Linked DNA regions of Homo sapiens: region 2 is linked to region 1. The links come from fine-mapping of genetic effects on gene expression. A gene starts in region 1. The other region holds a variant in brackets. All regions are shown on one strand. Distances are between the middles of the regions. Region 1 holds the start of TCFL5 (transcription factor like 5). Region 2 overlaps COL9A3 (collagen type IX alpha 3 chain).

The links.
Region 2: its variant is fine-mapped to the expression of TCFL5 in monocytes (TOPMed, PIP above 0.99).

What each region holds. Positions count from the first base shown.
Region 1 is chr20:62,856,357-62,867,629 of GRCh38, reverse strand. TCFL5 (transcription factor like 5) reads left to right here and starts at 5,808. Exons shown (of 6, transcript NM_006602.4): 1 at 5,808-6,606; 2 at 7,322-7,505; 3 at 8,104-8,266; 4 at 9,992-10,235. The coding sequence starts at 5,960. LOC105372717 (a long non-coding RNA gene) reads right to left here and starts at 6,195. Exons shown (of 4, transcript XR_936989.4): 1 at 6,089-6,195. RefSeq lists silencers at 5,400-5,499, 5,550-5,739, 6,240-6,389 and an enhancer at 5,361-6,015.
Region 2 is chr20:62,817,854-62,826,428 of GRCh38, reverse strand. It overlaps COL9A3 (collagen type IX alpha 3 chain), which reads right to left. Exons shown (of 32, transcript NM_001853.4): 3 at 7,876-7,911; 4 at 7,136-7,207; 5 at 6,447-6,500; 6 at 5,213-5,248; 7 at 4,899-4,922; 8 at 4,619-4,672; 9 at 4,265-4,318; 10 at 3,797-3,838; 11 at 1,928-1,984; 12 at 1,408-1,461; 13 at 559-612; 14 at 172-225. Among named protein-coding and RNA genes, the nearest start is that of COL9A3, 5.1 kb to the right of the region's middle. RefSeq lists a silencer at 1,171-1,230 and enhancers at 1,819-2,506, 2,507-3,195, 7,077-7,764, 7,765-8,450. The variant G/C (reference allele first, on the strand shown) is at 5,518.

The DNA of each region.
Region 1 (11,273 bases):
ATACTTTTCTAAGTATTTCTTTAGCTATATTCCATGAATTTTGATGTTGTCGTTTTCATTTTTGCTCATTTCTAAATACTTTATAACTTCCCTTTTGATTTCTTTGACCCGTGAGACATTTAGAAATGTATTATTTAGTTGCCAAATGTTCGGAGATTTACAATATCTCAAATATCTTTACATTAGATTTGAAATTAAATTCAGTCGTGGTTGAGGACATATTTTTCTAAAGTTTAAATTTATTGAGACATATTTTATGGTCCAAATTATGGTTTATCTTGGTAGATGTTACCTATCCAGTTGAAAAGACTGTATTCTGATGTGGGTGGTTGGGGTGTTCTATAAACATCAACTAGAGCAAGTTGGTTGATGGCATTGTCCAGGTCTTCTGCATCCTTTCTGATTTTCTGTCTTTCTCCTCTCTCTCTTTCTTTTGAGACGGAGTCTCACTCTGTCACCCAGGCTGGAGTGCAATGGCACAATCTCTGCTCACTGTAACCTCTGCCTCCCGGGTTCAAGAGATTCTCTTGCCTCAGGCTCCCGAGTAGCTAGGATTACAGGCATGCGCCACCATGCCCAGCTAATTTTTTTTTTTTTTTTTTTTTTTTTTAGGTAGAGACGGGGTTTCTCCGTGTTGGTCAGGCTGATCTCGGACTCCTGACCTCAGGTGATCCACCTGCCTCAGCCTCCCAAAGTGCTGGGATTACAGGCGTGAGCCACCGTGCCCAGAATTTTTTTTTTTTTTGTGAGATGGAGTCTTCCTCTGTCGCCCAGGCTGGAGTGCAGTGGCACAATCTCAGCTCACTGCAACCTCCATTTCTCTGGTTCAAGCAATTCCCCTGCTTCAGCCTCCCGAGTCGCTGGATTACAGGTTCACGCCACCACGCCCGGCTAATTTTTTTGTATTTTTAGTAGAGATGGGGTTTCACTATGTTGGCCAGACTGGTCTCCAACTCCTGACCTTGTGATCTGCCCGCCTTGGCCTCCCAAAGTGCTGGGATTATAGGTGTGAGCCACTGCGCCCGGCCTGCTCCATGGTTTGTTTTGTTTTGTTTTGTTATTTTTTATTTATTATTTTTTTGAGACAGGGTTTCGCTCTGTTGCCCAGGCTGGAGTTCAGTGGCACAATATCAGTTCACTGCAACCTCTGCCTCCCAAGTTCAAGTGATTCTCCTGCCTCAGCCTGCCAAGTAGCTGGGATTACAGGCGCACACCACCATGCCCAGCCAATTTTTGTATTTTTAGTAAAGATGGGGTTTTGCCATGTTAGCCAGGCTGGTCTCGAACTCCTGACATCAAGTGATCCGCTCGCCTCGGCCTCCCAAAGTGCTGGGATCACAGGTGTGAGCCACTGCACCCGGCCCTGCTCCATGTATTTTTAAGCTTTCTAATTAGATGCATTTAATCAGGAAAATGTTCTGCCCCCTATTTCACTATGAAATGACCAGAATCGCTGGCAAAATTCTTGGCTCTGAAATCTACTTTAGTATTTGTTTTCTTCTTTTTCTTCAGACCCGCCTCCTGGAAATTGACTTTAGTGTTTATATGCCTATTCCAGCTGCCTTTCGACAGCGCTAGGGAGGTGCGCACTTTCCATCCTTTCTCTTTAAAATGAGTTTCTTACGGGCACTCCAAGGTCTGACTTACAGAGTCTCACTCTGTCGCCCAGGCTGGAGTGCAGAGCTGGGACCTCAGCTCACTGCAAGGTCCGCCTCCCAGGTTCGCGCCATTCTCCTGCCTCAGCCTCCCGAGTACCTGGGACTACAGGTGCCCGCCCCCACGCCTGGCTAATTTTTTGTATTTTTCAGTAGAGACGGGGTTTCACCGTGTTAGCCAGGATGGTCTTGATCTCCTGACCTTGTGATCCGCCCGCCTCGGCCTCCCAGAGTGCTGGGATTACAGGCGTGAGCCACCGCGCCCGGCCTCCAAGTTCTGACTTTTTATCCATTCTGGTCTCTGCTTTCTCATTGACGTGTTTAAACCTTTTACATCTCATGTGATTTTTTTTTATTGGATTTAAATCTACTATCTTGCTATTTATTCTCTATTTGTCCCGTGTGCTCTTTGTTCTATTTTTCTTTTTTCTGCCTCTTGCATTTTTAATTTTTGTATCATTTATTTATTTACTTTAGAGGTGAGGTCTGTCATTCAGGCTGGTGTGCAGTGGCACAATCATATCTCACTTTCTGCCCCTTTGAGAGTCTGATTCCATTTTCTCTCCTTTATTGATTTATTAGCCATCACCCTTTGTTGCTGTATTGCAGTGGTTGTGGTAAGGCTCGTAATAAATAGCTTTAACCCGTCCAGTCTCTTCATTCTTCTGTGGAGACCCCGACTTCTATCCAGTCTCACCTTCCTTTTGTCTGAAGGACTTCTGGAACATGTCTTGTACTGCAAGTCTGCTAGTGATGGATTATTTTAGCTTTTGTAAGTGCAAAAAAGTCTTTATTTTGCCTTTGTTTTTGAAAAATATCTTTGCTGGGCATAGAACTACAGTTATTCCTCAGTATCCCTGGGGGATTGGTTCCAGTACCTGCCATGGGTACCAAAATCCACGAATGTTCAAGTCCCTTATGCAAAATGTCATAGTGTTTCCATATAACCTATGCACATTCTTCCATACACTTTAAATCATCTGTAGCGGCGAGCGTGATGACTCACACCTGTAATCTCTGTAATTTGGTAGGCTGAGGTGGGAGGATCACTTGAGGCCAGGAGTTCAAGACCAGCCTGGGCAACATAGTAAGATACCATCTCTACAAAAAATAAAATAAAATAAAAATTAGCAGGGCATGGTGGTGTGTGCCTGTGGTCCCAGCTACTCGGCAGAGTCATGCAGGAGGATTGGTTGAGCTCAGGAGGTCGAGGCTGCAGTGAGCTATAACCGTATTATCCTACTCCAGCCTGGGAGACAGAGCGAGACCCTGTTTCTAAAATATATACATATCGAGATTACTTATAATACCTCATGCGATGTACATGCTAAATGAATACTTGTTATACCATATTGTTTAAGGAATAATGACAAGGAAGAGCAGTCTGTGCATTTCGGTGCAAGTAATTTTTTTCTGAGTATTTTTGATCCTTGGTTGAATCCACAGACGCAGAGCCTGTGAATACAGACGCCTGACACTATCAGTCAGCTTCTCCCTTGCCCTCAGCACTTCAAAGGTGTGATTCCACTCTGTTCTGACTTGCATTATTCCTGAAGAAATGTCTGCAATCACTGCAATCTTTTCATTTATTTTTTTAGAAGGAGTCTCTCGCTCTGTCACTAGGCTGGAGGGCAGTGGCGTGATCTTGGCTCACTGCAACCTCCACCTCCCAGGTTCAAGCGGTTCTCGTGCCTCAGCCTCCTGAGTTACCTGGGATTACAGGCCTGTGCCACCACACCCAGCTATTTTTTTTTATTTTTAGTAGAGATGGGATTTCACCATGTTTACCAGGATGGACTCGATCTCCTGACCTTGTGATCCGCCCGCCTCAGCCTCCCAAAGTGCTGGGATTACAGGCGTGAGCCACCGCGCCTGGCCTGTAATCATTCTTATCTTTGTTCCTCTGTACACAATGTCTTGTGTGTGTGTGTGTGTGTGTGTACAGCTGCTTTTAAGATTTTTCACTGATTTAAAGCAATTTGAGGCCAGGCACGGTGGCTTATGCCTGTAATCCCAGCATTCGGGAGACCAAGGTGGGCAGATCACCTGAAGTCAGGAGTTCAAGACCAGCCTGACCAACATGGCAAAATCCCGTCTCTACTAAAAATACAAAAAATTGGCCAGGCATGGTGGCACATGCCTATAATCCCAGCTATTCAGGAGGCTGAGGCAGGAGAATCACTTGAATCCAGGAGGCAGAGGTTGTGCTGAGTCAAGATCGTGCCATTGCACTCCAGCCTGGGAGACAGAGCAAGACTCCATCTCAAAAAATAAAAAAATAAATAAATAAAGCAATTTGCTTTCCATCTTGGTGTAGTTTCCTTCATGTTTCTTGAGTTTGAGGTATGTTAAACTTCTTGGGTCTGTAGGTTTGTAGTTTTAAAAAAACTTTTCAATCATTATTTTTTTTTGTTGTTTTGTTTTTGTTTTTTGAGACAGCGTCTTGCTCTGTCTCCCAGGCTGGAGTGCAGTGGTGCAATCTCTACTCACTGAAACCTCCACCTCCCGGGTTCCAGCGATTCTTCTGCCTCAGCTTCCTGAGTAGCTGGGATTACAGGCACATGCCACCACACCTGGCTAATTTTTTATATTTTTAGTAGACACGAGATTTCATCATGTTGGCCAAGCTGATCTCGAACTCCTGACCTCAAGGGATCTGCCCGCCTCGGCCTCCCAAAGTGCTGGGATTACAGGCGTGAGCCACCTCACCTGGCAATCATTACTTCTTAAAATGTCTTTCTCCCCATCCTTCCACCCCCAGGGGACTTCAAATCACACTGCTTGAAGCGGCCCCACAGCTCACTGATGCTCTGCTCACTCTCTTAGCCTTCCCTCTCTGTTTTACGTTAGACGACTTCTGTTGCCATGTCCTTGAGAGTTTTAAGTCCTTGCTTTCCTCCTTGGTAGTGTTTTCTGAAACCTGATGTTTTGCCCAAAACTGATATATTATTTTCATGTATACATGTGTGAGTTTAGATTTGCATGGCTGAGCTTTCATAGCCCATCGTTGAATCATTGTAATATATTGGTCTGTGTCTAAACTGTGATGAAATGAGCGAAAGATTCAGACCCGGCTTAGAAGACGATGTGCAAGTCACAGGCCTTTAAGTGTCCTAATGCCTAGACAGAGAACAGACAACCACTGAGTGAGATGGGAATGTGGGTGAGAGGTTAAGTACAGGAATTATTTCAAGATTGCAAAAATAAGTCTCTTAAAGACCACATATTGCATAGTTCCCTTAACAGGGAAGGCCCAGCCTAGGCAAACTCCTGGACACAGAAGATTAGTGGCTGCAGGCGGGGGAGGGGCAGTGTGCTGACTGCTACAGGAGACCGGTGGTGAATGCAGCGGTGGAGGCGGGCCCAGCGCTGGGAATGTACCACCACCGTCGCGCTGTGCATTTTTTTTTTTTTTTTGAGATGAAGTCTGGCTCTGTTGCCCAGGCTGGAGTGCAGTGGCAAGATCTCGACTCACTGCAACCTCCGCCTCCCGGGTTCAAGCGATTCTCCTGCCTCAGCCTCCCGAGTAGCTGGGATTACAGGCACGCACTACCACGTCCAGCTAATTTTTGTATTTTTAGTAGAGACGGGGTTTCACCATGTTGGCCAGGCTGGTCTCGATCTCCTGACCTCCTGATCCACCTGCCTCGGCCTCCCAAAGTACTGGGATTACAGGCATGAGCCACAGAACCCGGCCATGCGCTGCGCATTTTACGCGGATGAAGCGGATGGCCTGGGCACTGTGGACTGTGGGTCCAGGGAGCTGTTTTGACAACGTCTTCATTCCTGCCGCTGTAATGGGGCGCACGTGCACGCACGGACGTGGCTTCTCCCCAGGGTGTCACCGCGTAGGTATCACGCTGATTCCAGCGCAGCCGCCCTCGCCGGGCCTCAGCGGGGAGTGGCCGGGCAGCAGGGGCGTGGCTGGGAACCGGGCGTGGCCTGAGCTGGGGGCGTGGCCTAGCTGTGGGGGCGTGGCTGGGCCGTGGGGGCGGGCCCTCCGCGCAAGCATCCGCCGACGTGGGGCGGGGCCGGGCGTGCGGGCGGTTGGGCGGGGGCGGGGCCGGCGGCGGCGGGTAACGGAGGGGGCGGGGCTGGCGCAGGGGTGGGGTTGCCGTTGCGGGGCGGGGCGGCGCAGGCGCTGTGCGCGGCACTCAGCGGTTTTCCCTCCCCCAACGGCGCGCCGGCTGTGGCCGGCGCAGAGTAGTGCTCGGGCCGGGGGTCGCCTCCCGCCTCCCGCCTCCCGCCTCCCGCCGCCCGCCGCCCGCGTCGCCCTCGCCGCCGTTGGGCCGCGCCGCGCCGCCATGTCGGGCCCCGGACCGCGGGAGCCGCCGCCGGAGGCAGGCGCGGCAGGCGGCGAGGCGGCCGTCGAGGGCGCGGGCGGCGGGGACGCGGCGCTGGGCGAGCCGGGGCTGAGCTTCACGACCACCGACCTGAGCCTGGTGGAGATGACGGAGGTGGAGTACACGCAGCTGCAGCACATCCTCTGCTCGCACATGGAGGCGGCGGCTGACGGCGAGCTCGAGACGCGCCTCAACTCGGCGCTGCTGGCGGCGGCGGGCCCGGGCGCAGGCGCGGGCGGCTTCGCGGCGGGCGGTCAGGGGGGCGCGGCGCCCGTGTACCCCGTGCTGTGCCCGTCCGCGCTGGCGGCCGACGCGCCCTGCCTGGGCCACATCGACTTCCAGGAGCTGCGCATGATGCTGCTAAGCGAGGCGGGCGCGGCGGAGAAGACGTCGGGCGGCGGGGACGGAGCGAGGGCCCGGGCCGACGGCGCCGCCAAGGAGGGCGCGGGCGCGGCTGCGGCTGCGGCTGGACCCGACGGCGCGCCCGAGGCCCGGGCCAAGCCGGCCGTGCGCGTCCGCCTGGAGGACCGCTTCAACAGCATCCCCGCCGAGCCGCCGCCCGCGCCGCGCGGCCCCGAGCCCCCCGAGCCGGGCGGGGCGCTCAACAAGTGCGTGCCCGGCGGCCGGGGGCTGGCGGGGCCCGGGTGGAGGCCGAGGCCGGGGCCGGGGCCGGGGCGGAGGCAAAGGGGGCCCTCGCTGTGCACGCCCCCAGCCTGCCCTCCCGGCGGCACAGGGCGCGGACCTCACCGGGTCTGGGGCCGCCCCGAAAGGCTGTGTGCGCTGTGCGGGCCCCGGGGAGCAGGTACTTCCAGAAACTAAACACCCCCTCCCTCAGTGGCCCCGCCTGGAGTGGGGCCGAGCGCGCAGAATTCCTGGGAACCATGTGCTCCGGGTGGCACTCTTGGATGTCAGGGAAGCCTAGGAAGGCCCGACGGGGGTTTGCAGGCTTTGAGCTCTAAAATGAGGCTCCAGCCTGCAGCCGCCCCCTTGGCGACCCTCAGGGATGGCTGTGGAAGGGGCTGCGTCCGCAGTTTTCTGCTCATCCCAGCCTGTAGTTGCCCATCGTGGTCACACTGGAGGATGGCAAAAGTGAGATTGGTGTCAGGATGTGATGAGAGCAGGGAGGTGGCGCAGTTTTGCTTTTCCTCCATAGGAAGAGGAGGACTTCCACAGCAGCGATAGTTGCTAATTGTTGTGTAGAGATTTCCAGGATGAGAGTTGGGTTGCTGTCTGGAAAAACTAGCCAGAGCCATGGGAGTGGGATGGTGGATGCTTGTCTGCCACGTATTGCTGACACTTCTGGGCTTTCTTTTGTCTTGGCAGTTTGGTAACTCTCATTCGACATCCATCTGAACTAATGAATGTTCCTCTTCAGCAACAAAACAAATGTACAGCATTAGTGAAAAATAAAACTGCGGCTACAACTACTGCTTTGCAATTTACATACCCACTGTTTACTACAAATGCTTGCTCTACTAGTGGAAATTCTAATCTTTCACAGACACAGGTAGGGAACATGATTTGTGAAGCTTTGCTCTTTTGTATTAAATGGGTAAATTTTAACTTATTTTGGTTAGGTCCCAAGTACTTTTTTTTCCCTTCAGTGAGCTTAATAACCTTTTAAGCCGGGCGCCAAGGCCGACACCTGTAATCCCAGCACTTTGGGAGGCCGAGGTGGGTGGGTCATTTGAGTTCAGGAGTTCAAGACTAGCCTGGCCAACATGGTGAAACCCCGTACGAAAATTAACCAGGTGGTAGTGGCGGACACCTGTAATCCCAGCTGCTCAGGAGGCTGAGGCGGGAGAATCGCTTGAGCCTGGGAGGTGGAGGTTGTGGTGGGCTGACATCGCGACCCTGCACTCCAGTCTGGGCGACAGAGTGAGAGCCTGTCTCAAAAAAAAAAACAAAAAAACAAAAACAAAAAAATACCTGTGAAAGTTGAGTGTTTATGTGGTATGCGAATATTTTTAAATCTTCAGTGCAACTAAAGTTCTTCAAATTACGTGTTAGTAGTTTTGATGTTTGTTAAGTGCATTTCATTTGTGCAGTAAAGAGGAGAGTAAGCCACATATTGATAAAATTCCTGTTGCTTCATTTTTTTCCAGAGTTCTAGTAACTCATGTTCTGTACTTGAAGCTGCCAAGCACCAGGATATTGGATTGCCTAGAGCATTTTCTTTCTGTTATCAGCAAGAAATTGAATCCACTAAACAGACGTTAGGTAGTAGAAACAAAGTTTTGCCTGAGCAAGTTTGGATTAAAGTGGGAGGTAAGCGATGAAGCAGCAGGTAGTGGGAGCTTTCTTCTGACTGAGCCCTGTGGCTGATGGCATTTTGGCCTTGGGGGGCAGGGGAGACAGATGGTTTGTACACATGTGAAACAGTCTTGGAGGTGTCTGTGTATCTCAGGGGTCTGTCCACCCGCTTCCCTGTCTTTTCGCTTTAAACATTATTCTGATTCTCAAACATAATTAATCTTGGTGTGAGAACGTTGCGTTTGAGGGCTTTTTCTTAACAGTAAAGTGATAGACTTACATAAATTTTCAGTTATTTTCAAGTTACTGAAAGTACTTTATAGTTTTTTATTTTCCTTATGTTATACTCGATGAGTGAGGCAGTCATCTAACATCTGCCGAAAGCCTTTGGATAGGTGGCTGCTAATAGGAGGACCCTATTAGGGCTGCCAGGGAGAGGCTGTAAGGTGATTCGGAAAGTTTGGAAATAAAGTCACTGCTGAAGGCACTGCTGCGCTAACCTGCATAGTCCCTTCCTCCCTGGGAAACACCTGCGTAGCCCCTTCCTCCCTGGGAAACACCTGCGTAGCCCCTTCCTCCCTGGGAAACACCTGCGTAGCCCCTTCCTCCCTGGGAAACACCTGCGTAGCCCCTTCCTCCCTGGGAAACACCTGCGTAGCCCCTTCCTCCCTGGGAAACACCTGCGTAGCCCCTTCCTCCCTGGGAAACACCTGCATAGCCCCTTCCTCCCTGGGAAACACCTGCGTAGCCCCTTCCTCCCTGGGAAACTGATTTGTGAAGTGACCCGAAAAAAGAACACTCCTTACACTTAGCTTTCCAAGAGTTGGTGAAGACAAGATGGGGAGGAAGAGCTACCGCCTTCTCCCATGTCAGTCCTTCCTTTTCCTCCCTATAAAATTTTATGCCAAAGTATATGTTCACATTTGTAAGATACAAAGATGAGTATTAAAGCAGCCTCTGTGCCGACTACTCAGGTTAAGGAATAAAATATCACCAAAACGACCGAATTCCTCTCTCTCCTGCTGAAAGCTTCATCATCCTTCTGAAATGGGTGCTTTGTGTGGCATACGCGTGCACATGAGCACGCCTGCCAGTCACGTGCCTGTGGTCCTTTGATGGATACAGTTCCACTGACGCACACGTGGCATAGCCTGTCACGCAGCAGAAAAGCTCGGACGCTACTTCTTCCTGCTTTGGGGAGGAGAGCCACTTCTGCGGCGAGGGCACACACACACGCTGCTGCAGTTTTGTTCTGAGCATTGCAGTAAAAATACTGTCATATTAGAATAATTGTTTTTTTTTCTTGTTCTTAGAATAATTGTATATAAAGAAAATATTTTTGGGAGGAAATATGTCCAGGTGGTTTGTTGTTGTTGTTTTTTTTTTTCCATTCTGACCTTTAGAAAAAGTAAACAACTTCTTGTTTTCTGTATTCATAGATAACACCTGTTAATTAAAAAGAGGGGCTTTGGATGAGGTCATATTGGTTGCATAGCACTTGGAAAACGTATTTAGTGTGATGATTGATTCTTGTTCAGTTTCGTTGTATAAAATAGGCTTGGGCTTCATGGTCCCTGCTGATGCTGAAAAACTGCATTAGTACATCTCTTTGTGTTTCGGTTCTCTGTGCTGCTTACCCAATAATGTTTATATCTTGGATTGAAAAGGCCAAAACTGTATTCAGCATTAATTGAGATAAGAATACAAAATTAAAAACCACTTTTTTCTTCTTTCGCAAAGAAGCAGCGCTATGCAAACAAGCACTGAAGAGGAATCGGAGTAGAATGCGTCAGTTGGACACAAATGTAGAGCGAAGAGCCCTTGGAGAGATTCAGAATGTGGGCGAAGGTGCCACCGCCACACAAGGCGCTTGGCAGTCCTCGGAGTCCTCACAGGCAAACCTGGGGGAGCAGGCCCAGAGTGGGCCCCAGGGAGGAAGGTCTCAACGTAGGGAGAGGCATAACCGAATGGAAAGAGATAGAAGGTAATACGTGTGACTGCTTGTCAGGCTGACTCATATATGATTACCTTAGTCATACATGGTTATCACAGATGAGTGATCCTTAGCCGTTTCTGCGTTCAGAGGGAATAAAGCAGGTAGGAGCATCGTTAGCTTTCCCAGATGGATCAAGGATCCCCCAGACTATGCCCAGGCTCGCTGGCTCACTAGGAGGACTCCCGGGACTCCGCATGCAGTCACTCTCAGGCTGTGACTTACTATGGAGAAAGGATGCCAGGTGCGATCAGCAAAGGCGCGTGGGGAGAAGGCAGGAGCTGAGGTGCAAGCTTCTAAGAGCGCGCCCTGTGGAGTCAGGCAGGTTGCCCCTCATGCCCCCAGCCATGTGGTCTGAAAACGTGGGTGAGGTGTTGCCAACCAGGAAAGCTCGCTAGAGACCAGGGGCGTGTCACGTAGGCACTGCCCCCATGCATGCAACCACAGTCCAGTCTCCCAGAAGGAAAGCAGTTGTTCAGTGTCAGCCATATCGTTTGCACAGTGTAGGTTCTGGGGGCACTCTTAACTCCCTGAATCTAGGTTTGCAGACTCCACTAAGGGCCAGCCCTGACTGCAGGCCTTTCTGAGGAGAGTGGTCAGGCTGTTTTGGTAACTGCTGCTTACCAGCCAGCTTGAGTTCAGCAAGTTTTGCCTGGTTCTTTTTTTTTTTTTTTTTTTTTGAGACGGAGTCTTGCTCTGTCGCCCAGGCTGGAGTGCAGTGGCGCGATCTCTGCTCACTGGAAGCTCCGCCTCCCGGGTTCATGCCGTTCTCCTGCCTCAGCCTCCTGAGTAGCTGGGACTACAGGCGCCTGCCACCACACCTGGCTAATTTTTTTGTATTTTTTAGTAGAGACGGGGTTTCAGCATGTTAGCCAGGATGGTCTTGATCTCCTGACCTCGTGATCTGCCCGCCTCGGCCTCCCAAAGTGCTGGGATTACAGGTGTGAGCCACCGCTCCTGGCTATTGCCTGGTTCTTTTAAGATTGCTGGGAAGGAAGAGGTTAAAATTGTTATTTAAGTGGTTTTGTC
Region 2 (8,575 bases), 40 kb after region 1:
ACATGCGAGAACAGGGGCCCAGAGCAAGGCCTGCGCCACAGTGGCGATGGCCAGAGCCAGGGTGCCGGCTGCTTCAGAGTGTCACTCACGGGGCCCATCTGAAGTCTGGAGGTGCAGACAACCAGGCCCCCAGCCACCTGGCCGGCCCCCACTAGGGGCTGCAGGACTTACCCGGTCCCCAGGGGGCCCGAGTGGCCCTGGCAGTCCTCGTAATCCCCGGGGGCCCTGCGAGAGAGAGGCACAGATGCAGAGGCTGGGGCTGCACCTCCACCCCGGGGAGCACCCAGGGCCAAGGCCCTCGGGGTACCCCTGGGAGCCCTGGTGTCTTCCATGAGCCCTCAGCCTCAGCTCAGGTCCCCCAGAGGGAGGGGGCACCAGCCTTGAGGTCAGCAGCCTTGGCAGAGGTGGGACCCCCAGCCAGGTCGCGCTCCTGTGCCTGGGTGTTGGCCAAACACCCCCCAGCCGGAGCTGGCCCCCTCGGGGGTAGATATGTGCAGGGCTTGATCACTCTGTGGGCTGAGTTCCCATCCCACCATCCTTACCCCTTCCTAGCCTCACCTGCAGCCCCACGCTGCCCGGGAGGCCGGCGGGCCCAGGGGGGCCAGGGTCACCCTGAAACAGAGGGGATAGGGTGGTCAGCGGCCCAGTCTGGCTCTCCTTGCACCTTTCGGTGCCTCCAGTCACCCTACTCAAGCCCAAGCAGCTGGGGGTGTTGCCCCCTTCACAGCTGGGCCTTGGAGGCTCTGTGAAGGGGACACTTGCCCACAGTTCCAGAGCAGTCCCGCGAGTCTCGGTGGCCTCGCCCTGCCGGGCCGGGGTCCGTGGTCACTGTTCCCACAAGGCCCTTCAGCCCTGTCCAGGCCCCTCCTCGTGGCCAAGCAGGGACCCCTCTGATGTGCACCTGGGGTCTCCTCATCTGATCACTCCAGCCACGCTAAAGGGCATCCCAGACCTGGTCCCCCGGCCTGCAGGTGACCATGGACAGACACCCTCCACGGACAGCGACCACAGGTGAGGGGAGGCTACAGGCTAAAGCCAGCCATCCTCACAGATGCCCCTCGCCCCGGCCACAGACACAAACCAGGGAGCTTCCACAGCGAGGCCAGGCAGGACGGGGTCTGTCCAGGGACCCTGCCTAAATCACCCAGCTCTGACCAGCCAGGCCCTGTCTGGAAGACAGGCACAGAAGGTGCCAGTGCAGGTGCACCCATGAAACGGTCCCTCCCCACCGCCGGAGCCCAGCCCCTCCCTCCCGCCGGAGCCCAGCCCCTCCCTCCCGCCGGAGCCCAGCCCCTCCCTCCCGCCGGAGCCCAGCCCCTCCCTCCCGCCGGAGCCCAGCCCCTCCCTCCCGCCGGAGCCCAGCCTCCAGTCCCCAGCTCCTCCCCAGCTGCTGTGCGGCAGCTTCACCTTCTCGCCGTCCTTGCCGACTTCCCCCTGCTCGCCTTTGTAGCCAGTGGGTCCCTGCAAGCAAATGTGGGGTCACTGCCCCACCCAGACCCCCCGACACCCCCTCCCTGGCAACACTGAAGTGAGGCCTGCAGGGTCAGTCAGCCCAGGGCCCGCCACACGGCAGCGCACAGGACCGCGGGTCTGGGCCCTCATGGGGAAACTGAGGCCTGAGAGGCGCTAGGACCCACATGAGGGCGCTCTGCGGTCAGGAGCGGGCCAGGGCTGGGCTGGGGTGGGAGCTTGAGGCTAGCTCTCCCCCGCAGTCTCTGACGCCTATGGCCAGTCCCAGCCTGGCCACATCAGCGTGTCACTGGGGTGCTGAAGGCGGGACAAGGAGGCTGGCCTAGCTTTCTTCCTGGGGCAACCCTGGAACCAGGGTCCAGCTTTCTGGACCCGCCACCTCCACAGCCCCATGGGAGCCCAGCTGCCTCCTGCCCAGCACAGGGTGGTGCTTGGGTCCCAGTCACCCGTGACTCACCTTGAACCCTGGCATTCCAGGGGGCCCTGGGGGACCTGGCGGGCAGATACTTGGGCACTGTCGGAAAACAGAGCAGTCAGACCCCTCCCAGCCAAACAGAGCAGGACGTCCGACGCAGGGGTCAGCGCCCGCGGGACCCCAGGAGGCCACTCTGCACGGTGACGGGACCCCGGGAGGCCACTCCTCATGGTGACAGGACCCCAGGAGGCCACTCCGCATCAGTGACGGGACCCCAGGAGGCCACTCCGCACAGATGATGGGACCCCAGGAGGCCACTCCACGTGGGTGACGGGGCCCCGGGAGGCCACTCCGCGCGGGTGTCGGGACACTCTGGGTGACAGGACCCCAGGAGGCCACTCCACACAGAGACGGGACCCCAGGAGGCCACTCCGCGTGGGTGACGGGGCCCCAGGAGGCCACTCCGCGCGGGTGTCGGGACACTCTGGGTGACAGGACCCCAGGAGGCCACTCCACACAGTGACGGGACCCCAGGAGGCCACTCCACACAGTGACGGGACCCCAGGAGGCCACTCCGTACAGGTGATGGCACTGGGACAGGACACAGACAGGGTCTCCTTCAGCACTGGCCAAGTGCAGCAGGGGCTGCATGGAGCAGCCGGCCCCACGGCAGACACTGGCTATCAAAGCAGCCATTCAGCACAGTCCCGGCCGGCACTGCAGGGGGCCTTGCAGCAGCCTCAGGTCGGGCCCATCCTCAGCACAGGAATGTGCTCGGCATGGGGCTTTTAGGAGGGGCACTGTGAGCCCAGGCAACAGGTCTGATGCTCAGGAAACCCAGGGCTGCTTCTAGATGATCCTACAGCTGCAATGGGCAGGCCAGGCCAAGGGTGCAGACCCGTATCTTCAGCCCCTGCCCCACTCAGCCCACGATCGGGGGCCCAACCACGCACCACATTCTGGAAGGTTCCCTAAAGCCTCCCTTCTGGGACACAGGCTGGCCAGGCACCTAGGCCCCGGGGTGGGGTGAGGAGAGAGGCTGGTAGACAGCGTCGGTGGTCAGGTCAGAGTGGGCCGAGCTTTTCCCTTCAAAACTATCAAACCTCTCTATGGAAACAAGGCGCTGACTGCCACCACGGACGGCCAAACAGAGAGGAGAGATGGATCCGTGGCCTCCGAAGCCCATTTTCTTTCCTCTTCATTTTTTTGAGACAGGCTTGAGCTTGGCTGCTCACGCTGGAGTGCAGTGGCTTGATCACAGCACCCTGCAACCACTGCCTCCTGGGCTCAAGTGATCCTCCCACCACAGCCATCCAAGTAGCTAGGACAACAGGCACGCCACCACGTCTGGCTACTTTAACAATTTTTTGTAGAGACAAAGATCTCACTATGTTGCCCAGGCTGGTCTCAAACTCCTGAGCTTAAGCGATCCTCCTGTCTGGGCCTCCCAAAGTGCTGGGATTACAGGCCTGAGCCACTGCGCCTGACCTGAGCCTGTTTTCTTTTCAGGCAAATGACAAGGCTCAAAGATCAAGATAAAGGTGGGTCCCAGACTCCAGTTCTGTCGCCATCTGTGGCCAAGGGCGCCCTCTGCGGATGACGCAGGGGAGCTGGATGGCTCTGTGACATGATTGTGATTCATTACATTTGTACAGCTCCATGCGCCTGGTGGCTTCATGAGGGACAGTGCAGGTCTAGACGGTGGTGAGGAGGGTGGGAAGGGGGAGGGGGAGGTCCCAGCCAGCCTCTCTGCCAGGTTGTGCCCGAGCTGTCTGCTCTGAGCTCCTGTCCCCAGGGAGGGCTCGGGCCCTGCCTTCTTGCCAGTATGGACAAGCCCCTCTCCAGGCCAGAACCCCTCCCCCCAAGGTAGGCACCCCCCAGCACCCTTAACAAATGGCTTCAAGTGCCTACCTGAAGGTCAGTAGCGCCTTCAGGGAGGACTCCTGGGTGTCCCTAAGACAAAAAGAGACAGCTGACATTCTCCCGCCCTCCCCAGCCACCTGCAGCCACCCAACCCACCCACCCACTCTCTGACGGACCACAACCTTCCCCATCCACCAGGGGACTTGGAGACCCTTCATCCTGTCCCCCAAGTGGCCAGTGCTGGGAGCTGCTGGCCCACCCACAGGGCATGTGACAACGACAGAATCCACCTGTCCTTGGGGCAGGATGGCCATGGGGACCTGAGTCCTGACCATCCCCAAGTTGGCTGGCCTAGCCACAGCCACTGCCCCCACCATTGACTGTTCCTGGGAGTGGCCAAGTTAGGGTTAGGAGATCTCGGAGGGGCATGGAGCCTGGGGAGGGGGAATGGGGAGGGTCCAACCCAGTGTCCTAGTCCATGCCCAGCACTTCTTAGAGCCTCTGCCCAGTACTTACAGGGGGTCCGGGAGGTCCTGGGGGACCAGGGAGGCCGGGGAGTCCAGAAGGTCCCTGGGGAGGGGGTATGACTTAGACAGAGTGGGACCAGCCCCCACCTGAGTGAGGTGCCCGGCTTCTCCCAGGGAGGTGGACACGCCCAGCTCCCACCAGCCCCCACTCCCACGGACTGTGCTGGTGTCTGCGTCCTGAGGTCGGGTCTGGATCATTGGCCAGGGCTTCTACCAACACCCACCAAGGTGGGGTTGGGGGAGAAAGGGAAAAGGGAGAGGGGAAGGGAGCCCCTGGCTGTTGAGTCTGGGGGTGGAGGCCACAGGTGAGCACACTCTGAGGGGCTCTGGGACAGCCACTCACCGGGGGGCCGCGGAGGCCGATCCCACCTGGGGGGCCGCTCACTCCTGCCTCTCCCTGGAGGGAAGTAAAGAGAGGTGGGGAGGTCTGCACCCGGAAGCCCCGAGGATCCCCACCCAGGGTTGGTGTGCCGCCTCCGAAGGGAGAGGGGCTCCAAGTATGGGGTGGTCAGATGGCTGCCCCTGAGAAGCCCCACCCCCAGGCACGGTTTGGGACATCCCAGCCTGGCAGGCTCTCGGGACTTGCGTGCTTGCTCAGGGCCCCAAGGGTTGTCAGTACTCACGGGGGGTCCAGGGAGGCCTTTGCCCTGCAAAGCCAAACATGGGGTCAGAGCCTGCCAGGCACAAGAAGGGCTGCGCCTCACCCCTCCCTAAGATGGCTCAGGTGGGTCCTGGGGAAAGGGCGGTTCCAGGGATGGGTGTCTGGTCCCAGCCCAGAGAGGGCACCAGGACCCCATCCAGGCACCAGCCTCCGGAGAGGCTGCAGATGAGAGGGCCAGGGATGGTCCCTGGGATTCCTGGAGGCCACCCCATTTAGACCAGACTCTCCAGCTCCCCAAACTCCCATGGAGAGGAGAGGACCACACTCCATACTCACCCCCAGCCCGGGCGGCCCCGGGGGTCCCAGACTTCCCTGTGGGAGGAAAGCAGGCGTCTAGGTTGGGCTGGGCCTCTATTTGCAAACCCAATCCCCTCCCTCTGAAGTGTGACGTCACAACTCCAACTCCCAGGACAACAGGGTCCAAGTCCCCACTTCACAGAGGGGCAGGGCCTCTGAGCCCTCTTGACCTGGAGGGTCTTTGCCGTCCTGGGGAGCTGCTGGAGACAGATGGCACCAGAGTCCCAGCGCTCGCTGCAAGAAGGTGCAACCTGAGGCAGGGCTGAGAGGCACCGAAGTGACCC[G/C]GGGTGCCTGTCTCCACCAGGAAGCCCTCCCGATAACCCACCCACGGAGCCTGCTGAGTCCTCAGCCCCCGCCCACGTCAGCGAGCCCCAGAGCCTTGGGCAGCCAGGCCCTGTCTGCCCTCCACACCCTCTGGGCCCTGTCTGGCCCCTGCTGCCTGAAATGCCTCATTCCCTGGACGGCACGCACGGGCCCTGTGCTGAGGCTGGAGGCCCCTCCTGAAAGCCTGGGGACCAGCCCACCCCACACCCCTGGGCACCACGGACTCGGCTGCCAGCAGCTACTGTTTCCCTCCTGTTTTCAGCTCAGAATCCGCCTCATGCCTGACGAGCTCCCAAGGGTCCCAAGGGCAGGGCTGTGTCCTCGTGTCCCCAGCCCAGCCTTCCTGCCCTCTGTGATGCTTTGCGCCTGGGGCCAGTGGCACCCGGTTGGCTGACAGCCACGTCTTATGAAGCCAAAGAGAGAATGCTGGCTTCGGGTTTGTACTCAGAAGCCACAAGGGGAGAAAGGCACCCTTGGGTGGTGGTGCCGCTCCGTCAGGGTAAAGGATTCAGTGTCCAACAGGCAGGCACAGGGGACTCTGCAGGCTGCGTGCCCGGGGGTCCCTGGTGGTGGTCTGCCCAGGGCCCTGGGGGCTTCAGGGACATTCTGAGGAGGCACCTGGGGTGGGTTCCCCCAAACCATCCCCCTTCTCCCTGCCATGGTCTGGATACCAGGACAACTCTGACCATACGTGGAGGTGAGGCAGGGAGGCAGGCACAGGGGACTGGCCACTTGGCACCCTGCCCTTCTGCCCCTCCACCCCAGGCACGGGCAGGGCAGCTGTCCTTGGAACTACCAGCTCCTTGGCCTTGTGGACACAGAGCAGCCAGAGGTGGCCAGGGGACCTCACCTCTGAACCCAAGCCACTGGGTTCGGCGCAGGCACTTACCCGTTCCCCAGGGGCACCCTTGGGTCCAGGGGGTCCATCTCGTCCAGTCAGACCCTGGGGAGAGGCAGAGGGCGAGCTCGAGGGGCCACATGGGAAGCACATGCCACCCCCCAGGCAAAAATGGAAGCACGGACCCTTCCCTTGGTGAGTCCAGAGAGGCATAGAAGACCCTTAGGGTGGCAGCCTCCTCTCTTGGCCCTGTCCACTGTCTGCCTGCTGTAGCCAGAGGCTCTGGGAGGAGGGAGGGGGCAGCCAGCGGGAAGCCAGCAACGGAGGCACCTGCTGTAGTCAGGCCTCGGGGACCAACCCAGCAGGACTGGACAGCTCACTTCTCAGGCCCGGCTTCCTCCGAACAAAACTCCGTGGCCCTGGGGCCAGGCCTGGAGCCCAAGATGACTAAGTGAGGCCAGCAGTGGGCAGAAGGTCCTGACAATGGGCACTCATTCCTGGACAAGCAAGGAGGGCTGGCGGGACTTCCGACTCCACTGGGCTGGCTCTGTCCCCTGCCAGATGCTGGTGGCGTCTGGGATGAAGGCCAAAGGACCCCTGTTGGGGACTTCTGGAGACTTCTCTCAGGACTGGGCTTCCCGCCTGAGCAGGCCCAGCTGGACAACAGCAATTAGGGCCGGACTCCTCCAGGGACCCGGAGCGGGGAGTGGGGCATGGCGGGGAGGGGCAGGCGCACTCACATCCACACCCGGCAGTCCCGGCAGCCCAGCCTCTCCTGGTTTCCCCGGCTTTCCTGGGGCCCCCTTTGGTCCCTGTGCAGGAGGAAAGGGCAGAGATGTGAAGGCGGGGTCTGGCCTGGAGCCCAGGCCTTCAGCAATGAAGCAAAATGCTTTCCACTTCCCCCCAGCCCAACCATACGGGATGGGCCCCTCTCCTGGGTCCCCCCTACTGTCTGGCAGACCCGGCTCAGCTGGGGCACGTGTGTCCTGCTTGCCCACACCTTGCTGGCCCAGGAAGGCTGCCCGCCCCATCCCTCAGTGGCATCTGTAAGACCTTCGTCTGGTCACCTCGGCCTCCCTGGCTAAGGGCCAGCAGGCATCTCTGTCGGACCCCCAGTGGGCCCAGACAGGGCTCTGAGCCCCAGGACCCTCAACCCCTGGAACTGAAGAAGGTGGGAGGGCTCCAGGTGACCTCAGGCCTGGGGGACCTGAAGGGCTGTACCAGCCCCGGTCCCGGCCTGCCTGGCGCTGGTCCAAAGAAAGCTTCAAAGCCAGGCCCTGCCCTGAACATGCAGAGGCTGAGCCCACACACTCCCCTCCCGCCCCGCTGGCTCCAGGCCTGCTCCAAGCCCTCTGAGGCCTCCCCTCAGGCAACCCGGGCTCCGGCAGGATGAGACAGGATATCAATGACCCCTCTGTTCTGAGTTCCCCCTTTCTCTCCAGACTGGAAAAAGGCTGTCTCCCCAGCCAGGGACACTCACCGGGGGCCCAGGCAGACCTGGAGGACCAGCTTCTCCCTGTGAGGAAAGACACCCACATGTAACCCTGAAAATCAGGGGTCCCTCAAGAACCCCGCCTCGGGGAAAAGAGCAGCGCTGGCCTCCAAATCAGCCCCAGAGGCCCAGCCCCAGCAGACAAAAGGGGCCCCTGAGCCCCCGATCCCTACCTAGAGGGCACCCTCCCATGTGTGGGGCAGCACTGGGCAAAGGGGTGAACTGGACAGACTGGAAGGAGGCTGTGGCCATTGAGGCCGAGCTGGGCAGGGGGGCAGAGGGTGGGTCATGGGGGGCTCTTGGTGCAGCCCTCCACAGCCCTCCACGGGGACCACACAGCGTGGACAGGCCCTGAGGGGACTCCTGCCCTGGTGGTGGTCACATGGGGAGGTTCACCCCAGACGGTCCCTCCGAGGGAGGCACAATTGTAGAATTTCAGCCGCCTCCTCCTGCTGCTTGGCCCACACCAGTCCTGAGATACCCATAGGGGACATCATCTCAGGACTGAGTCGGCTCCTAAGCCCCCTCCATGGCTGGCTCCAGAGCCCAGCAGCCTCCAACAAGACCCCCGGCCCCCAACCACCCAAAGGACGTGCCTCTCCCCACTTCAGCCAGAGGCCAGAACCCCGAACACAGGGGCACGGGCCCCTCAGGGGACCCAGAGACACACACCTCAGTGCCGGCATTC